2 separate regions of the Homo sapiens genome follow, and region 1 is linked to region 2. Evidence: fine-mapped expression QTL. A gene starts in region 2. The other region holds a variant in brackets. All regions are shown on one strand. Distances are from middle to middle. Region 1 has its middle 6.9 kb from the start of NUCB1-AS1. Region 2 holds the start of BAX (BCL2 associated X, apoptosis regulator).

The links.
Region 1: its variant is fine-mapped to the expression of BAX in esophagus mucosa (GTEx, PIP above 0.99).

Annotation. Positions count from the first base shown.
Region 1 is chr19:48,924,345-48,927,243 of GRCh38, reverse strand. No RefSeq gene overlaps it. Among named protein-coding and RNA genes, the nearest start is that of NUCB1-AS1, 6.9 kb to the right of the region's middle. RefSeq lists a silencer at 38-332. The variant C/A (reference allele first, on the strand shown) is at 1,753.
Region 2 is chr19:48,953,350-48,956,252 of GRCh38, reverse strand. It overlaps BAX (BCL2 associated X, apoptosis regulator), which reads right to left and starts at 1,378. Exons shown (of 6, transcript NM_138761.4): 1 at 1,291-1,378; 2 at 654-705; 3 at 420-566; 4 at 1-55. The coding sequence starts at 1,324. RefSeq lists enhancers at 904-1,113, 563-1,130, 1,131-1,699 and a silencer at 1,234-1,383.

The sequences.
Region 1 (2,899 bases), 29 kb after region 2:
CATGAGCCACTGCACCCAGCCTGCCGTGTGACTTCTGACTAACCCGAAACTGGGAATGCCTCCAACATGTCTAACGGATGTGTTACTCTTTATGTAGAAACACGTACTTACCAGCCTTTCCTCCAGAACAAGCCTTGATGTTGTCACATCCATCACAAGATGTATCGCCCATAGCCACCTACGCGTTTCTTCCAGAGCACAGATATGCTTTCCTCGAGATAGAAGCCCTGTGTCTGGGGGTTGCAGGGTGTGATCTATCTGTCTTGCTGCTGCCCAAGACCACACTTCTTTTTTTTTTTTTTCCAGACAGGGTCTTGCTTTGTAGCCCAGGCTGGAGTGCAGTGGCGTGAGCTCGGCTCACTGCAGTCTCCACCTCCCGGGTTCAAGTGATTCTCCTGCCTCAACCTCTCCAGTAGCTGGGATTACAGGCGCCCACCACCACACCTGGCTAATTTTTGTATTTTTAGTGGAGACAAGTTTCACCATGTCAGTCAGGCTGGTCTCGAACTCCTGACCCCAAGTGAGCCACCTGCCTCGGCCTCCCAAAGTGCTGGGATTCCAGGCATAAGCCACCATGCCTGGCGAAGACCACACTCTAAGTTTCCCCCTAATAAACCACCCTGTATTGACAAACTAGATGGGTCGGCCTCATTCTTTGGTTTCTTGGCTCCTTCGGCATTTGGGGACCGCTTTGCCTATATGAACCTTTCAAAGAACACCATTTAGGCCCGTTTTCCAGATTGGGTCACTGAAGCTCAACTCCCCTCATTTTCTGAGAGAGGCAAAGAGAGGCTGCAGCTGATGTTTGCTATGCTCATTGTTCAGGTGCAGCTGGGAGGGCATGACACACATATAGCTTCCCAGGACATTCCAGGATCTGGGAATATGTATTTTTGTTTTGTTTTGTTCTGAGACAGAGTCCCGCTTGGTCACCCAGGCTGATGTGCAGCGTTGCAATCACCGCTTCCCAGGCCCAAGCGATCCTTTCACCTCAGCCTCCCAAGTAGCTGGGACTACAGGCATGTGCCACCACACCCAGCTAATTTTTTTTTTTTTCTTGAGATGGAGTCTTGCTCTGTCACCCAGGCTGGAGTACAGTAGTGTGATCTTGGCTCACTGCAACCTCTGCCTCCCAGGTTCAAGTGATTCTTGTGCCTCAGCCTCCCTGAGTAGCTGGGATTACAGGTGTACACCACCACGCCCGGCTAATTTTGGTATTTTTTTGTAGAGACGGGGTTTCACGTTGCCCAGGCTGGGCTTGAATTCCTGCCCTCAAGTGATCCGCCCACATCAGCCTCCCAAAGTGCTGGGATTATAGTTGTGAGTGACTGCGCCTGGCCCTATTTATTTATTTTTTTACATAGAGATGGGGTCTCCCTATATTGCCCAGGTTGGCCTCAAACTCCTGGGCTCAAAGGATCCTTCCTCCTTGGCCTCCTGAAGCGTTGGGATTATAGGCATCAGCCACTGTGCCCGGCCTATTTATTTTTCTCGAGAAAGGGTCTTGCCCTGTCTCCCAGGCTGGAGTGCAGTGGCGTGGTCATGGCTCACTGTAGCCTTAACCTTCTGTGGCCAAGCGATTCTTCTGTCCTTAAGCCTCCTGAGTAGCTGGGACCACAGGTGCATGCCACAACACCCGGCTAATTTTTTTTTTTTTTTTTTTTTTTTTTTTAGAGATGAGGTCTTGCTATGTTGCTCAGGCTGGTCTTGAGCTCTGAGCTTGAGTCATCCTCCTGTCATCCTCTCCTGAAA[C/A]CCCCCACCCTGCCCATCCCTGGCCTCCAAAGTGCTGAGCTTATAGGCATGAACCACTGTGCCTGGCCAGAATTTCATTTAAACAAATACTCCTGGCCGGGCGTGGTGGCTCAGGCCTGTAATCCCAACACTGTGGGAGGCCGAGGCGGGGGGATCACCTGAGGTCAGGAGTTCTCAAGACCAGCCTGACCAACATGGTGAAAGCCCCATCTCTACTAAAAATACAGAAAAATTAGCCGGGTGTGTGCTGGGCACCTGTAATCCCAGCTACTCAGGAGACTGAGGCAGGAGAATCGCTTGAACCCAGGAGGCAGAGGTTGCAGTAAACCGAGATCGCGTCATCGTACTCCAGCCTGGGAGACAGAGCAAGACTCTGTCTCCAAAAACAAAACAAAACAAAAACAAATATTCCCCGCTTGCTTTTTACCAGACCCCAACTTGGTCCAAGGAAAGCATCCCCATCCCAGGTGAGGATGAAATCACCACTGGTGGATGCCAGCTTGGTGGATCTGTCTGCAGCTGTCACTGACCTGTGCCTCACAGCCAGTGGGATATAAGGGAACATGAGGAGAGGGCTGAAAGGAGAGGGAACTCTGGGGACAGATTTTCTCCCACTTAACAATGCCCAGAACAGAATGCGGCCTCTTCCTTCACTGGCTGTTGGTGACATCTGGAGCAGCTGCAGCTACCTTGGGACCATGAGGGGGGGTCCAGCCCCCAAACCTATCCTTGGCACAGCTAGGGGATGCGAGAACCTGGTTCCCTGAAGTCATCCTGCCTTGGGACATCTTGGTTTTTATCATAATTCATTTTTATTTATTCTTTTTTCTATTAGAGACAGGGCCTCATTCTGTCACCCAGCCTGGAGTGCAGTGGAGTGATAGATCATGGCTCACTGCAGCCTCAAACTCCAGGGCTCAAGGGATCCTCCCACACCAGCCTCCTAAGCAGCTGAGACTACAGGCACACACTACCATGCCCAGCTAATTTTTTTTCTTTTTCTGAGACGGGGTCTCGCTATGTTGCCCAGGCTGGTCTCAAACTCCTAAGCTCAAGTGATCCTCTTGCCTCAGCCTTCTTTTTTTCAGACAGAGTCTCGCTCTGTCACCCAGGCTGGAGTGCAGTGGCATGATCTCGGCTCACTGCA
Region 2 (2,903 bases):
TGCCACTCGGAAAAAGACCTCTCGGGGGGAGTCTGTGTCCACGGCGGCAATCATCCTGCAGGAGAGAGGAGAACCAGTGCCGGGGAGCAGGCATCAGGCTGATGGTGGAAAATTCCCGCATCCACCGCACACTAAAGATAAGGAGACTGAGCCCCAAGCCAGGCTGAAATGAAAAGCAACAGGCCAACGGGGGACAAGGGAAGGGGACAAGACAGACATTTAGGAAGGTGGGAAAAATGACTCCCTGAAGGAGGGTTTTAAGATCCTGGCAGAGAGGAGGGCTGGGAGTCCGGAATGTTTGCGCTGAGTTGTGGGGCCCAGACTCCTAGTTCTTAGGGGAGGAGGAGAATGCGGGGCTGAGAGTCCTGTGTCCTGAAGGAGCCCAGTGGCTGGACTTCTGGGTCCTCAGGGGCCCACACCTCTGCAGCTCCATGTTACTGTCCAGTTCGTCCCCGATGCGCTTGAGACACTCGCTCAGCTTCTTGGTGGACGCATCCTGAGGCACCGGGTCCAGGGCCAGCTCGGGTGCCTCCCCCCCCATTCGCCCTGCTCGATCCTGGATGAAACTAGAGTGGGGATGGAGTGAGGGTGCAGAATCAGAACGGGGTGTCACTCCTCAAATCTGTGCCACAATAATCAGACCTCAAACTCACCCCTGAAGCAAAAGGGCCCCTGTCTTCATGATCTGCTCAGAGCTGGTGGGCCCTAGAGGAGAAAGGAAGGGAAGAGGTACCTGGACTCTTGGGTTCTAGGGGATCAGGAGACTGTGGAGACTCACGGCCCCTGAGGGAGGACAGAGCTGGGGACCCTGGACTTCTGGGACCCTAGCAGATAAAGTGACGGGGGGGCCCAGACAACTGAGTCCCTGATGGAGAAAGGCCAGGAGGCTGGGCCTGTATCCTACATTCTCCCCGGGGAAAGAGGCTAGGGGAACGCTATATGCATCCAGACCCCTGGCCTGAGGGGGCAGAGGCGAGACCCGCCCCTCCCACCAGTGCCAGAGGCAGGAAGTGGTGCGGGCGACAAGCCCGGGCCTGCCCGGGGGCTTGGCTTCCGAGATCCCCTGGTTCTCGAGGGTCCGAGAGCGCCAGAGAGGCAGGGATCGGGACACGGGGATCAGAGAGCCAGGAACCTCCGAGGACGGAGGGGACTGGAGGCTGGCAGCGCCCGATCCGGGAGTTTCTGCCCCTCAGTGCTTGGAGATCGCACAGCCCCAGGCCGGTAGGAAGGATCCCGGACGGGCCGGCGAGGGGGCTCGCCCTCCTCCCGCCCGTCTGCCTCCCGCCTCACCCCCGCCTCTGGGCTGCTCCCCGGACCCGTCCATCACCGCCGCTCCCGCCGCCGCCTCTCGCCGGGTCCGCGCGGGCGGCCGCAGCGCGCCCGGGTCACGTGAGAGCCCCGCTGAACGTGCGTCCTTCACGTGGCCGCCCCGCAAAATGGCCGCTGCCCCGCAGCGCCGCCGGGTCACGTGACCGCACCTGCCTCGCTCCCTCGGGAGGTTTGGTCCCGTCACGTGACTGTCCAATGAGCATCTCCCGATAAGTGCCAGCAGTGGCGCCGTCCAACAGCCGTCCGTCCAATCGCAGCTCTAATGCCTTCATTTATCCAGGCACCATTTTTAGAAGTTTCGGGCAGGGTTTGAGCTCTCCCCAGCGCAGAAGGAATTAGCAAGTGCAAAAGCTCAGAGGCCCAAAATAGCATGCTTCCAGGCAGGACGTTATAGATGACTAAAAACTGAGTGGTTTTGTTTTTTGCAGAGACCTGGATCTAGCAATATAGCCCACGCCCAGGCTTGTCTCTAACTTGTGAGCCCAAGAGATAACCCCGTCTCAGCCTTCCAAAGCGCTGGGATTACAGGCATGAGCTACCGCGCCAGGCCTGCTTTTCTGTTTGTTTGTTTTTTCCTGTTTTTTTTTTTTTTTTTTTTGAGACAGGGTCTCACTGTGTTGCCCAGGCTGGAGTGCAGTGGCCCAATCATGGCTCACTGCAGTCTGGAATTCCCGGGCTGAAGCCTCCCACCTCAGCCTCCTGAGTAGCTGGGACTACACCGCCCCTGGTTAATTTTTAAAACTTTTTATGTGGAGATGAGGTCTCTCTATGTTGCCCAGGCTGGTCTCTGAACTCCCAGACTCAAGCGATCCTCGCACCTTGGCCTCCCAAAGTGCTGAGATTACAGGCTTGAGCCACCCCACCCAGTCATGACTCGAATGTTTGTGTTTGTGTAAAAAGAAAAGGAATATGAAGTTTAAAAAGTGGCAGAAACTAATCTGTGCTGATAGATCAGCAGGGTATGGAGGGGAGGGGCCACAAGAGACACTCCCCGGGTGCCCCAAATATGCCATATTTTTATCTGAATGGTGTTTACATGGGTATACACATTATTATTATTATTATTATTATTATTATTATTATTATTTTGAGACGGAGTTTTGCTCTTGTTGCCCAGGATGGAGTGCAATGGCACGATCTCGGCTTACTGCAACCTCTGCCTCCGGGTTCAAGCAATTCTCCTGCCTCAGCCTCCCAAGTAGCTGGAATTGCAGGCATGCGACACCACGCCCAGCTAATTTTGTATTTTTAGTAAAGATGGGGTTTCACTATGTTGGTCAGGCTGGTCTCAAGCTCCTGACCTCAAGTGATCCACCTGCCTCGGCCTCCCAAAGTGCTGGGATTACAGGCGTGAGCCACTGTGCCCGGCCGGGTATACACATATTTACAATTCATTGAGCTGTACACATAAGACTTGTGTGCTTTATGAATATTATGACATGTCACTTTAGACAGAAAATAATAGCAACTAAGGAAAACTCAGAAAAATGAGCTAGGATCAGATGATAAAGGGTTTGGGCCTGTCAGAGAAGGGACTTGATCTATGTCCAGAAGGCCGCTGGGAAGCATGGGGA